Homo sapiens: one gene and its partners. The protein of the gene in region 1 interacts with the protein of each later gene in a biochemical or structural test. Each region holds a gene or a part of one and is shown on either strand. Other genes may lie near its edges. The genes, in order: MYLK, CALM1, CTTN and PAK1.

Region 1 (3,881 bases):
TGCTGAACTTTGCAGAGATATGACTAATGCATAAAGGCTCATTGGTGAGGTCCATTTCCAATTGTCCATAGGCAAATTACCTGCTTTGGATCAGACTAAGACAAATATTGCTTTCTTCTTCTTAGCAATATTATCAGCTCTTTTAAATTATGTTTTATATAGCTGTTATTAGCTTTATTCAGTTATAATTTATATACTATAAAATTCACCTATTTTAAATGCACAATTCAATTATTTTTAATGAATTTATACCACAATCCAATTTTAGAACATTTTCATCACTCCAAAAAGATCCCTTGTTCCCATTTTGTTTTGACTCTTATTTTTCATTTAAATTATTTCACTTAAACTATTATACAAAATTGAAAATTTAGGCTGGGCATAGTGGCTCACGCCTGTAATCCCAACACTTTGGAAGGCCAAGGCAGGCAGATCACTTGAGTCCAGGAGATCAAGACCAGCCTGGGCAACATGGTGAAACCCTATCTCTACAAAAAATACGAAAATTAGCTGGGTGTGGTGGTGTGTACCTGTAGTCTGAGCTATGCAGTAGGCTGAGGTGGAAGGATCACTTGAGCCTGGACATTGGAAGTTGCAGTGACCCGAGATCATGCTGCTGCACTCCTGCCTAGGCAACATAGTGAGACTCTGTCTCAAAAAAAAAAAAAGATAGAAAATTGTATTTTCGGCCGAGCACAGGTAGCTCACACCTGTAATCCCAGCACTTTGGGAGGCCAAGGCAGGCAGATTACCTGAGGTCAGGAGATACAGACCAGCCTGGTCAACATGCTGAAACCCTGTCTCTACTAAAAATACAAAAATTAGCCGGGTGTCGTGGCGTGCACCTGTAATCCCAGCTACTCAGAAGGCTGAGGCACAAGAATCACTTGAACCAAGGAGGCGGAGGTTACAGTGAGCCAAGATCACGCTACTGCACTCCAGCCTGGGCGACAGAGTGAGACTCTGTCTCAAAAAAAAAAGGAAAAAGAAAATTGTATTTTCAATCTAAGAAGGTATTCAGATCTAGGTGTAGAGTTGGAATTGGAGCAGTATTTCAGGTAGTACTCTATTTTTAATTTTTATTTTTTTGCCATGTTGGCCAAGCTGGTCTTGAACTCCTGCCCACCTTGGCCTCCCAAAGTGCTGGGATTACAGGTATGAGCCACCATGCCTAGCCTCAGGTAGTACTCTATGTCTGTTTAAAGATGGGTGGGTGTGGTGGCTCACACCTGTAATCCCAGCACTTTGGGAGGTCAAGGTCAGAGGATCACTTGAGCCCAGGAGTTTGAGACCAGCCTGGGCAACATAGGGAGACCCTGTCTTTACAAAAAAAAAACTTTTTAAAAAATTAGCCAGGCATGGTGGCATGTACCTATAGCTCCAGCTACTTGGGAGGCTGAGGGAGGAGGATCACTTGAGCCCAGGAAGTTGAGGCTGCAGTGAGCCATGTTCATGCCACTGCACTCCAGCCTAGGTGATAGAATGAGACCCTGCCCCCCTACCCCCCAAAAAGTGAAAGGTGTGATGTTTAACTGAGCACGGTCGCTCATGCCTATAGTCTCACTACTCAGGAGGCTGAGAAGGGAGGATCGTTTGAGCCCAGGAATTTGAGCAACAGTAAGCTACGATCATGCCACTACACTCCAGCCTAGGCAACAGAGTGAGACTCATCACTTTAAAAAAATAAAAAAACTATTAAATAAGTTTTTTAATAGGTGGGATGTGGTGCTAGTCCAACATGTGTGGGAAATGGAACAACTTTAAAATATTCTATTTGGGGTTTCAGATATTGGTATTTACAAGACATGTCCATATTCTAATGTAGATATCAAAACAGTCGATAAAGGCCAACATCAAAATTTTCTCCTTAACCACCTTAATCAATAGTGGTAGCTTACAAGTTGCTTGCATGAGTTGATAAGAAATTTTGAATAACAGTTCCTGCAACTTGTGTTCTCTCCCTGTGATGCAGGATACCCAGACCCCGAGGTTGTCTGGTTCAAAGATGACCAGTCAATCAGGGAGTCCCGCCACTTCCAGATAGACTACGATGAGGACGGGAACTGCTCTTTAATTATTAGTGATGTTTGCGGGGATGACGATGCCAAGTACACCTGCAAGGCTGTCAACAGTCTTGGAGAAGCCACCTGCACAGCAGAGCTCATTGTGGAAACGATGGAGGAAGGTGAAGGGGAAGGGGAAGAGGAAGAAGAGTGAAACAAAGCCAGAGAAAAGCAGTTTCTAAGTCATATTAAAAGGACTATTTCTCTAAAACTCAAAAAAAAAAAAAAAACTCAAGATAGTAAAAGCACCTAGTGTGATAGATTATCGGTTAGGTCATTTGTGGGTTGATTCTTCAGAAACAGCAGTTGATACCTAGCAGCGTTATTGATGGGCATTAATCTATGTTAGTTGGCACCTTAAGATACTAGTGCAGCTAGATTTCATTTAGGGAAATCACCAGTAACTTGACTGACCAATTGATTTTAGAGAGAAAGTAACCAAACCAAATATTTATCTGGGCAAAGTCATAAATTCTCCACTTGAATGCGCTCATGAAAAATAAGGCCAAAACAAGAGTTCTGGGCCACAGCTCAGCCCAGAGGGTTCCTGGGGATGGGAGGCCTCTCTCTCCCCACCCCCTGACTCTAGAGAACTGGGTTTTCTCCCAGTACTCCAGCAATTCATTTCTGAAAGCAGTTGAGCCACTTTATTCCAAAGTACACTGCAGATGTTCAAACTCTCCATTTCTCTTTCCCCTTCCACCTGCCAGTTTTGCTGACTCTCAACTTGTCATGAGTGTAAGCATTAAGGACATTATGCTTCTTCGATTCTGAAGACAGGTCCCTGCTCATGGATGACTCTGGCTTCCTTAGGAAAATATTTTTCTTCCAAAATCAGTAGGAAATCTAAACTTATCCCCTCTTTGCAGATGTCTAGCAGCTTCAGACATTTGGTTAAGAACCCATGGGAAAAAAAAAATCCTTGCTAATGTGGTTTCCTTTGTAAACCAGGATTCTTATTTGTGCTGTTATAGAATATCAGCTCTGAACGTGTGGTAAAGATTTTTGTGTTTGAATATAGGAGAAATCAGTTTGCTGAAAAGTTAGTCTTAATTATCTATTGGCCACGATGAAACAGATTTCAACTGATAAAGAGCTGGAGAACTCCATGTACTTTGGAATCTCCTCCAAGATAGCCAGAGTTTAATACATCTTCATTCTCAACACTCTCCAAAGAACTTGACCTACCTTATGGGTTCCATATTTTTCTTCTTAAATGTGCATCAATCATGCCTTGCCCCCAACCTTTAAATATATTCTTAGACCTGGTAAATGCACTCAGACTTGCGTCTTTAGGAATTTTTAACTTTCTTTCACTACATTGGCACTTAAATTTTTTCTTTATAAAGCTTTTTGAAGGTCATAAACAAAGACCATAATTGATGATAGACCTAATACATTTCCTCTGTGTGTGTGTGTAACATTCCAAATACTTTTTTTTTCTTTTCCACTGTTTGTAAGGTGCAACAATTTAATATTTTTAAGGGACTTTTTAAGAGTTCCTTAAGAACCAATTTAAAATTACTTCAGTGCAATCCTACACAGTATCAACATTAGAATTTTGATATTAGTCTTATGTTATCTTCCATTCTATTTTTATCTGCTTTTTGCTGCTAGTTTCAAACTGCCAGTATTTTTCCTTTTGCTTTTAAAATAGTTACAATATTTTTCATGATAGCCACAGTATTGCCACAGTTTATTATAATAAAGGGTTTTTATTTGATTTAGCGCATTCAAAGCTTTTTTCTATCACTTTTGTGTTCAGAATATAACCTTTGTGTGCGTGTATGTTGTGTGTGTGCATGTGTGGCGTATATG
Region 2 (4,489 bases), on another chromosome or scaffold:
GTGGACTGAATGATAACCTTTTCTTTCTTCATATAGGCTGATCAGCTGACCGAAGAACAGATTGCTGGTAAGTTGACAACTCCAAGGAGTCCCCAGAAGGCCAGAACTAGGCACTGACTCAGTTTTGGTGACTCCTCTGTTCCTCCCCGCTACAGTCTGGGCAGTTTTCTAAGAATTTATTTAAATAAGAACAGTAAGCAGAAACACTGAGGTCAGATGTTATTCTTGCCAGTACTTTATAGATGAGGTGAAAGGAAGTAAAACTAAGGATGCCCACATGTTAAACTCTGGAGAATTTGACCATGTTTCACAATGTGCAAAGTTTGCGTATGATTAATTGTACTGAGCCTGCTACTCAGCGGTTTAGTTTACAATTCTTATGCCATGGGTCTTTCAGTAATCTGCCACGAAAGCTTGTGCTCGCTATCCTAAAATAAATGGAAATGGGTGAATATGAGTGTTAGGACCACTGTAGTAATTGGGAAGAAAGTTACATTAGTTAAACTCTGTTGCCCAGGCTGGTCTCTAACTCCTGGGCTCAAGCAATCCTCCTGCCTCAGCCTCCTGAGTAGCTGGGACTACAGGCATGTGCCACCACGTCTGGCAGATTTTAGCTTTTTAATATTCCTGGAGGACTTGTTTTGAGACTGTTTCTCGTTAGGAAACCAGGAATGCTTCTGAAATATTCTAAAAGTCATGTGGAGAGAGTTTACCTGGGAATGTACATTTCTAGTAACCATTTTATTTGTTATGAAACAAGGGATTCTTATGGCTTTAGAAATGTAACAGGAAGGGATTTGAAGGGGGCACATGGACCAATCTTGTCAGATTGGATTTAGTCCCTTGAACCTGGGAGGCAGGGGTTGTAGTGAGCTGAGATTGCACCACTGCACTCCAATCTCGGTGACAGAGCGAGACTCCATTGTTTAAAAAAAAAAAAAAAGATTGGATTTAGGACTAATTTAAGCATGTTCCAGCTTAGCCGCCTTGAAACCTTTGGGAATATTGTGGTGTGTGGCACTGTTTATTGGGAGCAGTGTTTGCTTTATGGGCTGCTGTATGAAGGCCAGTCCAACAGGACTATTGTGGTCATTATTTCAGTAGATAAAGACCAGACTTCTGATACGTTGCACAACTTGAATGGCTGGCTTTGGCAAGCCCCCGGCAAGTGTGTATTGTGACTGGGTTGGATAAAGACATTGATTCTAACGGGTCAACTTTTGTTTTCAGAATTCAAGGAAGCCTTCTCCCTATTTGATAAAGATGGCGATGGCACCATCACAACAAAGGAACTTGGAACTGTCATGAGGTCACTGGGTCAGAACCCAACAGAAGCTGAATTGCAGGATATGATCAATGAAGTGGATGCTGATGGTAAGAGCTTTAAAACCATGAATGAGGGCCATTGTTGTGTAATTCAAGTTCAGACATGTTACAGGATTGTCTTTCAGGTCCCCAGAGCAAAGCAAATGTGCAAAGATCCTTTCTGTGGTTGCCCCAGGGCCATTGACAATTAAAATAGAAGATGATGGGCCTTGCGTCCATCCTGCTTAGTGTCTAGAATGTTTTCTGCATGGGATCACTATTGTTTTCTTCCTGCTTGGTGCGACCTAGAGCTCAAATCTATTTTTTTTTTTTTTTTTGGAGACGGAGTCTCGCCCTGTCGCCCAGGCTGGAGTGGCACTGGCGCGATCTCGGCTCACTGCAACCTCTGCCTCTTGGGTTCCAGCGATTCTCCTGCGTCAGCCTTCTGAGTAGCTGGAATTACAGGCGTGTGTCGCCACGCCCAGTTAGTGTTTTGTATCTTTAGTAGAGATGGGGTTTCACCATGTTGGCCAGGCTGGTCTCAAACTCCTGACCTCGTGATCCGCCCTCCCCGGCCTCCCAAAGTGCTGGGATTACAGGCGTGAACCACTGCTCCTGGCCGAGCTCAAAGCTTTTATCAACTGGCCCATGAGTCTGCACTGAGTCTTGAGGGGGGAGGTGAAATTAAATAGCCATAGAAAGTGCTTTTTAACAAACTTACTGTGTTTAAAGAGGAGGAGGAACCCCCAGATGAAGTAGGTGACGAGCACTCTTAGAAGTTACCATAAAAGTGAGTACAGTGTGAGCTGTAGATGTGTTTGCTGCAGAGGAGCATGTGAGGTTTGGAGGCGGATGTGTGGTGACTCCAGGGGATAGATTTGCAGAACCTAACGGAAAGGGAAGCTGTAAGGTGCAGGGCCAGAGGGAACCAGCAGTAACCCTGATAGCGGTCTGTCATCTGTTCCTCTCGACTCTACAGCAGCGGACAACAGAACTTTGATTGCTGATTTCCATCAGTAAGCAGGCTTTGAAGCACACTTCCCCACCCCTAAAAAAAAACCACGTATTTTGGTAAATCCTATATATATTCTAATGTACTGTATGACAGTATAGAACATGATTTTTAAAAGATGAGTTGGGAGGAGAAAAGGATAAAAGAAAAAATAAAAGAAGCATTAAGAATAAACAATTCGGATCTAGATTTTACTTTCTAGATGATTGACTCGAGGGTGGTGTAGTAAAATCGCTTGTCTGGTCACAAACATTTGGCAGCAGAGCTTTTGATTAGGTTCTTTGACAAAGCCTTCAGCACGTTAGAGTGGTTTTCACTAATAGTGTTTTGGAAAGAAAAGGTTGTCCATAGTTCTCTAGTTTGCTAAGATGATCAGCTACCCAGGAACGTGGAGTAACTTCCTCTTGTTTGTGGGAGCCCCGGGAATCTGTGCCTGGGGAGGGGAGAAGTCTGTTAGGCTCTTGGATTGTGTGGAAGAAGGAGAAGTTGTGCCAGGCTACAGAATCCTGTGTTTGCACTGAGAAAACAGGATGGTACCTGACCTTCTCTGCATGGCTGTGAGATAGCTTAAAATAATTTCTTTTGTTTTTGATGAATATGAACAATATCTTAAAATTTTTGAGGCTAAAAAAGTCTTGAAGGGATCCCTGAGGTATTTTCTTTGAAAGGTACTGGTGAAAATGAGTAACTTAACCTAAGGGTTTTTCTTTCTAATTTTATTTCCATTTAGTTCAATGACACTGTTAGTCTGGAGTGCTTGTCTTTGGGGGTATTCATCTCTTAGTTTTAAAGAGGAGTTGTTTGGAGTACTGGCCGTAGAACAGATTGTTCTGACAGTTCCCTAAGTGTTACTAGTCTGAGCTGTGAGAATGCTCCTGAGCTTTTCCCTTAATGGGAAATAAAGATACTGAGTTGGAAGAAAACAGGTGGCTAACCATCATAGCGTGGCCAAGAAATGATCCTGGAGAAGACTTGGTAAGACTTCATGGCCCATGCATGGCATAACAGAATCAATGTTCCTCTCTCATAATCTTTTCTCCTCTGAAACACTTTATACACTTAACCTGCAGCTCAGTTCTAGGCCTTTTTTGTGTTACTGCTGTCACTAACCAAGGCAGAGTGAGACCTGAGTGATTTCCCTAACTCAGGGATGGCAGTCGGGGGCGCTTTCTTCCCTCGGAGTGGAAAGATTCAGCCTGCGGAGTGGTGTATGCTATTTTTCTCTTGAACTGTACAGCCCTTCATGACCCTTCCATGGGCTTGAATCCAGATGTGCAGTTTCCTTTGTATAATTAAATACTATCCTGGGCACTGATGATGAGTTTGAAATTATGTGAAATTGCCCTGTGAAGTGTTTGAACGTTTTAGACCTGCAGATGATTGAACCTAGTAAGATAGTCTGCCCCTTTGTCCTAGTACATGTTTACCGTTCCGTACAGTGGTTCTGAAATGATTACTGCAGAGCAGCGTTAATGGAGTGCTTACTTTACATGAGCTTTTTGTTTTTTAATTCGAGGTAATGGCACCATTGACTTCCCCGAATTTTTGACTATGATGGCTAGAAAAATGAAAGATACAGATAGTGAAGAAGAAATCCGTGAGGCATTCCGAGTCTTTGACAAGGTAATCCAGCATCTACATAGCAGATGGTACTTAAGTATGGCTTCTTCCGCTTTCACTTCTAAAAGCTATAATAATGTTATAGACAGAAGACTTAAATCTAACTGCCTGAGCCTCTGATCTCACTTTCAAAAATCCTCCTTATGGTAACCGTATCAGGGGAGGGTAGGCATAATAAATAGGAATTTTGGACCATGTTTCTTGACTGTTACTTTGAATTGTTGTGAGCTTTTGCAAATCCTGTTTTCTGCATTAGCTGTTTGCATGTATTTAGTAGGTTAGAGGTGGGAACTAGAGATCAGAGAATTGTTTATGGCAGCAGAGTTAGCAGTAACTTGAGAGGGCATAGCTAAGTCAAAGACCTACTTCCCCACACTACATCATTAGCAATAACAATTGCTGAATGTTCACAGGATGGCAATGGTTATATCAGTGCAGCAGAACTACGTCACGTCATGACAAACTTAGGAGAAAAACTAACAGATGAAGAAGTAGATGAAATGATCAGAGAAGCAGATATTGATGGAGACGGACAAGTCAACTATGAAGGTA
Region 3 (4,489 bases), on another chromosome or scaffold:
AAGGACTACTTTAAAAGGAGCAACGAAATCAGTGAACATGCAAGTATTTTATCCTTTGATTAAAAAAACAAAAATCTTTCAGGTCCACTGTAGGACCACTGAATAATACAGACAGTATTTAAAGGTGCTATTTATGTGTAATAACAGAAACACAAACAGTGGTAACCAGAGGTGGGGGTGTGTGCCTGCAGCCCAGCTACTCAGGAGGCTGAGAAGGGAGGATCACTTGAGCCCAGGAGGCGGAGTCCAGCCTGAGCAACATAGCAAGACCCCATCTCTAAGTTAAATCATTAGCTAATATTTTAAAAATTCAAAAAACAGGCTGGGGGAGGGGGCTCACGCCTGTAATCACAGCACTTTGGGAGGTCGAGGTGGGTGGATCACCTGAGGTCAGGGGTTTAAGTCCAGCCTGACCAACATTATGAAACCCCATCTCTACTAAAAATACAAAATTAGCTGGGCGTGGTGGCCCACACCTGTAATCCCAGCTACTCGGGAGGCTGAGGCAGAAGAATCACTGGAACCCAGGAGGTGAAGGTTGCAGTGAGCCGAGATTGCGCCACTGCACTCCAGCCTGAGCAACAAGAGTGAAACTCCATCTCAAAAAAAAAAAAAGAATTAAGAAAAAAAGTTTTTTTTTTTAAAGTACAGCAGAGGCTGGACACAGTGGCTCACACCTGTAATCCCAGCACTTTGGGAGGCCAAGGTGGGCGGATCATGAGGTCAAGAGATCAAGACCATCCTGGGCAACATGGTGAAACCCCGCCTCTACTAAAAATACAAAAATTAGCTGGGCTTGGTGGTGCATGCCTGTAATCCCGGCTACTCAGGAGACTGAGGCAGGAGAATTGTTTGAACCCGGAAGGAGGAGGTTGCACTGAGCTGAGATCGCACCACTGCACTCCAGCCTGGCGAGAGAGAGAGACTCCGTCTCAAAAAAAAAAAAAAAAGAAATAAAGTACAGCAGATGAATTCCTGTAACATCATCCATTGCATCCAGAAGCTAGCAGGAGATGAGAGTTTATGATAAGGCTCTAAGCTCAGGAGGCAGCAGAAGGGCAAGGCTTTCAAAGGCCACTCTTCACAAACTGAAGCACGCAGGGGGATGCCAGGAAATAGGACACACACAGCATCCTCCAGAAACTTCAGTTCTACTCAGAATGAAGCCATTTAGCATGTCACTGTGACACCAAAACATGACTCTCTCATGGACCCACTAACAGCACAAGGCAGAGGATCAAGGCCTGGGAGAGAAGGCCTGAAGCATCCAAGGAGCCTTGCGTCTGCCCAGGTGCTCGGCCTGTGCTCCCTGGCTCCCTGGAGTCACACACTCATGCAGCTTCGCGGAGCATGCGCTGCTCACAACTGTGTGGTGTCGGGAAGAGGAGGAATGGACTGTTCCCAGGAAAGAGGCAGAGAGCAGAGGCAAGCAGCTCTGTGCGGCAGGCAAGGCCTGACCGGCAGGAAGGCAAGGCCAGGCCAGGCCGCGACAAACTACAAGCCAAGCTGCCCTCCAGGCCACCGGCACTTTCCTCAGGGAAATGCCAAGCCAGCATGGTCGGATCTTCCAGTGGTGTTTCTTGCTTTGGGGTAATTTTTTTTTTTTTTGAGTTTTTAAATAGTCAAGCTCTCACTTTTCAAATGTTGGCAAATATTTTTAAAAATTTAAATGTGCAGGCCAAACAAGAGGCACAGGGAAACAGGCAGGCCACAGCCTCTGCAGCCCTGGGAAACGCTCTGAGTGATGGTGTACAGGCTATGCAGTGGGGAAGGAAGAACTCAGCACAGCCTCCAAGGACAACTTGGCAGTATCTATGGAAATTTTACATTCAATAGCCTTCGACCCAGCAATTCCATGTCTAGGAGTTGATTCTTTTGAATAATCACTTGTGAACAAAACACAGGTACAAGAATGTTCCCTGCAGTCAAGTTTCAGCTGGGCGCAGTGGCTCACACCTGTAATCCCAGCACTTTGGGAGGCCAAGGCAGGGCGATCACCTGAGGTCAGGAATTCAAGACCAGCCTGGGCAACATGGCAGAACTCCGTCTCTACTAAAAATACAAAAATTAGCTGGGCGTGGTGGCGTGTGCTTGTAATCCCGGCTAGCCGGGAGGCTGAAGCACGAGAATTGCTTGAACCAGGGAGGTGGAGGTTGCAGTGAGCAGAGATCACGCCACTACACTCCAGCCTGGGCAACGGAGCGAGACTCCGTCTAAAAGAAAAAAAAAAAAAATTTACAGGTCACACCTGTAATCCCAGCACTTAAGGAAACCAAGGTGGGGGAGGATTGCTTGAGACCACGGAGATCAAGACCAGTCCGGGCAACACGGCAAGACCTCATCTCTACCAAAAATAAATAAATAAATAAATAAATAACCTAAATTCCACATTCAAAAAAGGAATGGTTACATGGACTATGGAATCCTCATACGATGGGGAACTGTGCAGCCATTCGAATTAGGAAAAGCCCACATACACTGGTACGAAAAGAACACCAAACATTTTCAGTTAAAAAATCTACAACAATCACGTGTGCAGAGAGAAAATGCCCTCGTGGGTGTTTCTGGAGCAAACGCGTGATTACAGACCGTGGGGTCCGCCCCACCTCTCTGTGACTCGTGCTTCTCCGTCTTGCCCTGGTAGTCGAAGCCCACCGCGCTCTTGTCTACTCGGTCGGCCTGCACGCCATACTTGCCGCCAAAACCACTGGAGTAGTCTGGAGAGACAGGGCAGCAATTAGCACGGGGGCCTGAGGACGAACTACACTGTTCCTTTTGTTAAACTAAGCAAAAGTGTGTAGGGGTTACAACTCACAAACACATCAAGCGCACATTTTAAAATGTACAACAAGCCACCCACTGCTCCATACAGGTGACGCTGGACCCTGTTTCACAACAGGTGCATGGGGGGGTTCTGGGCCCTGTCAGCTGTTACAGGGCAGTTCCTTTGTGTAGTCAGAAATGACGCTGCATGCCCACTTTGAAAATCAACTGCTCAGGTAAAAGCTGGAAAGCTTCATACAAAGAACCAGCACTTTGGAGGCTGAGGTGGGCGGATCACTTGAGGCCAGGAGTTTGAGACCAGCCTGGCCAACGTGGCAAAACCCCATCTTTACTAAAAAATAGAAAAACTAGCCAGGGGTAGTGGCACACACCTGTAATCCCAGCTACTTGGGAGGCTGAGGCAGGAGAATCGTTTGAACCCAGGAGGCGCAGGTTGCAGTGAGCCGAGATCGTGCCACTGCACTCCAGCCTGGGCAACAGAGCGAGACTCTGTCTCAAAACAAACAAACAAACAAAACAAAATGAAAAAAATGGAAAGAGAAAGCCTCATATGAAGAAAGCCATGCAGCTGAACATGGGAGACAAGACCCTGATCCTCCGCCTGCCCACACCACAGCTACCTCCACCTAGACTGCACCGAGACTGCGTAAGGACTGAGAGCTTGTTCCGCGGATGATGCAATGACACAAAGGAGGAAGAACTAAATAAGCTTGCAAAAAATAAACTGAGAACTTTAAGGTGGCGATATGCTTTGGTCTTTCAAAAAAGAGACTGCATGATGTAATCAAGATTAATCACCAGCAGTTAAGACCGTATGTGTATAAGGAAAACAAGAATTTAACAACTCTGGTTTCTAGCCTTGGGGGGAAGTTAGCTTTCTGCCGATCAATCTGTGAGCTCTCTTTTCCAGGAGGAGCGCTGCCCAGATGAAGGGAAGGCGGCTTCCGCTACAAGGGGGAGAAGCCCCACAATGACAGCAGATGCCAGGGCTCCGAGGGGGATGTGTAACGGGGAATACATCCATCATGTGGTATCCAGATGATCCAGAAACATGAAGAGGAGGGCAGAGTCCTCCTTGTGGCAACAGCCACCGCTCAGGAAACGGCTTCAGGTGGCTGTGACTCTCCCCATCAGGGCCCCCGGAGCGCGGGGAAACGGCTTCAGGTGGCTGTGACTCTCCCCATCGGGGCCCCCGGAGCGGGCTCTTTCTGCACCTTTCGCGTCTTACCTTTCTGGGAGGCATGCTTCTCAGTCTTCCCCTGGTATTCAAAGCCTACAGCAGACTGTGACGACCAAAAACACATGAAAAAGTGGGGAGAAATACTTTCCAATGTCCCTGAAACAATCTCTCTGAATTCATGACATGACATTTAAAAAAATATGAAACACATGATGCTGTGACCTCTGGGTTCCTAAGCCAGGTGCAGGTGGCAGTGACGCAAGAGCTCTGGCATCCTAAACGGACAGGCCCACTGCAAGGCCCAGTGGGCGGCGCAGGCCAAGCCATATCCCTGGTGACCTGCCCTCCCCAGCATGCGGCAGCAGGGAATGCTCAGCTGATTCATTCCACGGGCTTCACAAAAACTCGCTTCTCAAATAAGTCATGCTGAGAACATTAGTATTAGTAATGAGAATAGCAGTGGCCACCAGGGGTGCACTCCCACCAGCCAGGCACTGCGATGGGCATCTGAGCAAACACCCGTGA
Region 4 (4,489 bases), on another chromosome or scaffold:
TTTTTAATTTTATCTCTTTTGGTGGGTCTTTAGAAATCTCATTTTTTTTTTATAGAGAGGTATAACTTAATTTGCACAAATCTTAAGTGTACAACTTGATTTTTATATATGTACACACCCATGTGTTCACTACCAAGATCACCCCCAAAGATTCCCTCATGACTATTCCTACTCAACATCCTCCTCCCAGAAATAACTACACTGTTCTGACTTCTATTATCATACATTAGTTTTGCTTGTTCTTGAATTTCATATAAATAGAATGACATAGTATCTGCTCTTTTATATCTGGCTTTTTTCACTCAAAATAATGGCCACTTTCAAAAGACACTACAGTCATTACCCCCGAAGATTCCTTCATGCCTATTCCCACTCTACATCCTCCTCCCAGAAATAACCACTATTCTGACTTCTATTATCATATATTACTTTTGCCTGTTCTTGAATTTCATATAAATCAAATGAGACAGTATCTGCTTTTTCATATCTAGCTTCTTTCACTCAAAATAACAGCCAAACACTTTAAAAACACAAGACAGTCATGTGTCACATAACGACGTTTCAGTCAACGATGGACCGCATATGATGGTGGTCCCATAAGATTATGATGGAGCTGAAAAATTCCTATCACCCAGTAACACTGTAGCAGTTGTAACGTCATAGCACAATTACTTTGTTTTTTAATAAATGTACAGTCTAAGTGTACAGGGTTTATAAAGTCTACAGTAGCGTACACAGTAATGTCCTAGGCCTCGACATTCACTCACCACTCACTGACTCACCTAGAGCAACTTCCAGTCCTACAAGCTCCATCCATGTTAAGTGCCCTACATAAATATACCTTTTTTTTATCTTTTATGCTGTATTTTTACCGTATCTTTTCTATGTTTAGATATACAACCACCATTGTGTTATAATTGCCTACAGTATTCAGTACAGTAACATGCTGTACAGGCTTGTAGCCTAGGAGCAAGAGGCTATACCATATAGCCTAGGTGTGTAGTAGGCTATACTATTTAGTTTTGTGTTCACTCTATGACGCTCACATGACAAAACTGCCTAAGGATGCACTTCTCAGAACATATCCCCTTTGTTAGGCAACATATGACTATACAATTGTTTGCCTATCTTTTTCTGTTGACTTGAGGTCCTTGGAAGCAGAGATTGTCTCTGAATTCATAGTGCCTTGCACACAATAGGAACTCAGTTAAGACTTGCTGAATTCATTACACTGAGGGCAGCATATAAGATACAGAGAAGGATGAATGCAAGAAGGATAAATTCTGGCATCTACCTAGAAAAACAGGTCCTATCACAGTAGTAGAAGGATTTATAGTTTTGGGTCTTCCATTTTATATTAGTGCTGGTGGATCTCAGCACTAGGACAAACAGGGTTCATCCGGAAAAGCAGAGTTGTAATTTGGGAAGTTGGTTTTGTGCTAAGAAAAAAAACCGTTCTCTCACTGTCACTGCAGGGGTATTTTTAGCAACATGGTCAGCTAATGGCATCTCTCTCATATTAAGCATAATTCTGCCAAATCTCAAGTCAGTCTCACATAACAACTCCAGATGGGTGAGGGGTAAAGTGGAGAAAGAAGAACAAGGTTTATGAGAGGCAAAAAAAAAGCAAAATCATATATGCCGGCACACACACTTTAAAGTCATTTCTCCAGGGAAAGAAAATGCCCCTACTAACCCTTGTCCAATCTTCTCAAACCGTGTATATTTCTTCTTAGGATCGCCCACACTCACTATGCTTCCTTTGAAAGAAACAGAGACCATGAATCATTTTTTCCCAAATCAAGATACAAAAAAGGTTCCACATTTCCCCAACCCCTGTAGCTGGCAAGGGTTAAAGAACTACCTCCAATAGCCAAAAAGCATGCTAAACAGGCCCTCAGCTTTTCCCCCATAAGTCTCAACCAAAAGTTTCATCACCTTGACTGCTTTGATTCATAGTAAGCTATTCCATTTCTAAACTCCTAAAAGTCATTCATTTTTTAATTAATCCATTCAGTAAATATTTACTCATTTAATACGCACCAAGCCATATGTTGTGTTAGGAATGAAGAGATATGACACAGTCAAGGCAGTCCCTGCTCTCAAGAAGGTCAATTTCATGGAGGAGACAGATAAGTAAGCATAAAGTTCCATGAAAATATAATAATTGCTGTGATAAAAGCCAAAGGGGTACAGAAAGAGGCACACACACACAAAAAAAAGACTGGAAAAACTTCAGAAAGGTGATATATGGACTGATTTCCACTTTAAGTAAAAGCCAGAGAGATAAAGTAGAGAAGAGGTTTACAACAAAGAATATTTCAAGTGCAACGACATAGAGGTTTTCCACTGGGTTTTATAACTTGTATTTTAGAGATGGAGAAATTGAGGCCCACAGAAGGGAAGAAGATACTTCCCCCCCAAGGTCACACAGCAAATTGGTGTCAGAGCTAAGATTAGGAGTTTCATTTTTAGTCTCCCGGTCCAATGTGCTCTCCATTAATACCCAATTACTAGGAATTGGTACTTTTCACATATATTACCTCATTTGATTTGCAAATGAGACAAGTATTAACATCCCTATTTTAAAAATGAGAAAAATGAGGTTTAGAGAACAGTAGAAAATTGCCTAAGACACAAGTCAGTGGCTGAGCAGAAGCTTCAACTCAAGTGTCCTAACTCCCAGGCCAAGTCTTAATTCTAAGTCATAATTCTAAGTGTTATTGTTAAAACAAAACAAAACAAAAAACTCTGGTTTAGAGAACAAGACTACATACAGGAGTAAACAGATGACTAGGTAAGTGGCTTTTCTTACTTTGTCATTTTATGAGGGATCCAGAAAAGGGCAATTTTTAAAACAGTGAAAATTTGTTTTAAAGTCATATAGGAATTAATCAGGAAGAACTAGAGAACCACAAAGCAATGCCAGTTTGCAGACGTCGCCAAATCGGTCACATCAAATCCTTTTTGGAAGTAAGTAGATACAGTGAATAAATTAAAGCCCTTGTCAAATGATTCTTCCAAGCCCACAGATCAACCTAGTTCTTCCTTCTAACATGAATTCTTCTGCAGTTTACTGAAACACAGAAATAAGCTACCCTAACATACCCCCATTTCTGGCAGCTAAAGAAAGTAAAATGGAAGTTTCCACTTGACAGCAAGAGGCAGTATGCTCTACTTACAGGAACAAAAACTGTGTTCTAACCTCAGCCATGTCACTTTTTAGCTGCGTGATTTTGGGCAGGATATTTAGCCTCCCTGAGCCTCAGATATCTTCATTGCAAAAATTAGGATCATAATGCTTTTCTTCACAGGGTTAATAAGAGAATTAAATTTAAAAAAAATCAAGAAAATATTTTGCTTGTCATTTGATACATACTATAGGTTCATAAAATGTTAACTTCCCTTCCCTCTTTTCCTACAACCAAGATGGCAGATGCGTCTTCTCCTAGGTCAATGGCAAAACATCAATAATTGATCACAGTGCCCTTTTCCACTAGGTCCTCAGTCTTTCTCAACATGGCATTCTAGGCTATTCATTAGAGAAAAACTATTTGTCTTCGCTATAATACATGCCTAGGGGTGAGGGATGCCCTGCCCTCAAAGTAAGCTATCCACACTCTCACCACATCTCCATCCTAACATAGTATCCAACCAGGGCTGTGAGACAGGGAAGGGAGGTTCAGGGGCAGGGTGAGGAGAAGCAGTCTGTGCCTAAGGTACCAAGCATGGCCAGCCAGCTGCATGGACCAAGCCTACGACCAGCAAATCTCTGTGCTTGACCAGTCATAAAACGAAGAAAGGTTCAGAAAGCTACAAATTCCTTACGTAATTTCTCCAAGATCTCCTCATCAGACATTTTAGGCTTCTTCTTCTGCTTCTCAGTATTCCGGGTCAAAGCATCTGGTGGAGTGGTGTTATTTTCAGTAGGTGAAATGGGAGATGTAGCCACGTCCCGAGTTGGAGTGACAGGAAGTGGTTCAATCACAGACCGTGTGTATACCTGCATTATTAGTGCAAAATTTTGGCAAGACCAGCCTTTGTTAGCATAGGGGAACCTCTCCTAGATGTGAGGTTAGAACATCCACAGAGCAAACCCCAATAAACTCATCCTTTCTCTTATGTCAAAATCTATATTACTCCTCCTCTGTGCCCAGGCCCACCCATTCTGGGTAAAATGGCCTTCCTTACTCTCACTGTAAACAAAAGAAGTGAGAGTCTCAGCACTAAAGATATTCAATAGAGGCTAGACAACTATCAAAAGAAATTAGTTAAAGACAATTCTATTAGATAAGAATCCCCTTCATCTGTAATATTTTATGCTTCCCCAAGCTAAAAGAAATATCCTGTATTCCCCAAGCTAAAAGAAATATTCTGTAACAAAAGAAATTAGTTGAAGACAATTCTATTAGGTAAGAATCCCCTTCATTTGTAATATTTTATGCTTCCCCAAGTTAAAAGACATATCCTGTAGTAATGCAAATAGCAC

What was found.
Region 2: the proteins of MYLK (region 1) and CALM1 are reported together in a solved structure, tested with the Homo sapiens proteins (2 studies listed by BioGRID, with this or other methods).
Region 3: the proteins of MYLK (region 1) and CTTN form a complex in vitro, tested with the Homo sapiens proteins (one study listed by BioGRID).
Region 4: of the proteins of MYLK (region 1) and PAK1, one has a biochemical effect on the other in vitro, tested with the Homo sapiens proteins (one study listed by BioGRID).

Annotation. Positions count from the first base shown.
Region 1 is NC_000003.12:123,612,441-123,616,321, reverse strand, and holds part of MYLK (myosin light chain kinase, smooth muscle), read left to right. Parts: intron 1-1,972; coding exon 1,973-2,217; 3' UTR 2,218-3,881. UniProt on the Homo sapiens protein: Calcium/calmodulin-dependent myosin light chain kinase implicated in smooth muscle contraction via phosphorylation of myosin light chains (MLC). Also regulates actin-myosin interaction through a non-kinase activity.
Region 2 is NC_000014.9:90,400,029-90,404,517, forward strand, and holds part of CALM1 (calmodulin-1), read left to right. Parts: intron 1-36; coding exon 37-67; intron 68-1,230; coding exon 1,231-1,374; intron 1,375-3,833; coding exon 3,834-3,940; intron 3,941-4,350; coding exon 4,351-4,486; intron 4,487-4,489. UniProt on the Homo sapiens protein: Calmodulin acts as part of a calcium signal transduction pathway by mediating the control of a large number of enzymes, ion channels, aquaporins and other proteins through calcium-binding. Calcium-binding is required for the activation of calmodulin.
Region 3 is NC_000011.10:70,415,241-70,419,729, reverse strand, and holds part of CTTN (src substrate cortactin), read right to left. Parts: intron 4,068-4,489; coding exon 4,013-4,067; intron 2,718-4,012; coding exon 2,607-2,717; intron 1-2,606.
Region 4 is NC_000011.10:77,351,840-77,356,328, forward strand, and holds part of PAK1 (serine/threonine-protein kinase PAK 1), read right to left. Parts: intron 4,004-4,489; coding exon 3,829-4,003; intron 1,761-3,828; coding exon 1,697-1,760; intron 1-1,696. UniProt on the Homo sapiens protein: Protein kinase involved in intracellular signaling pathways downstream of integrins and receptor-type kinases that plays an important role in cytoskeleton dynamics, in cell adhesion, migration, proliferation, apoptosis, mitosis, and in vesicle-mediated transport processes.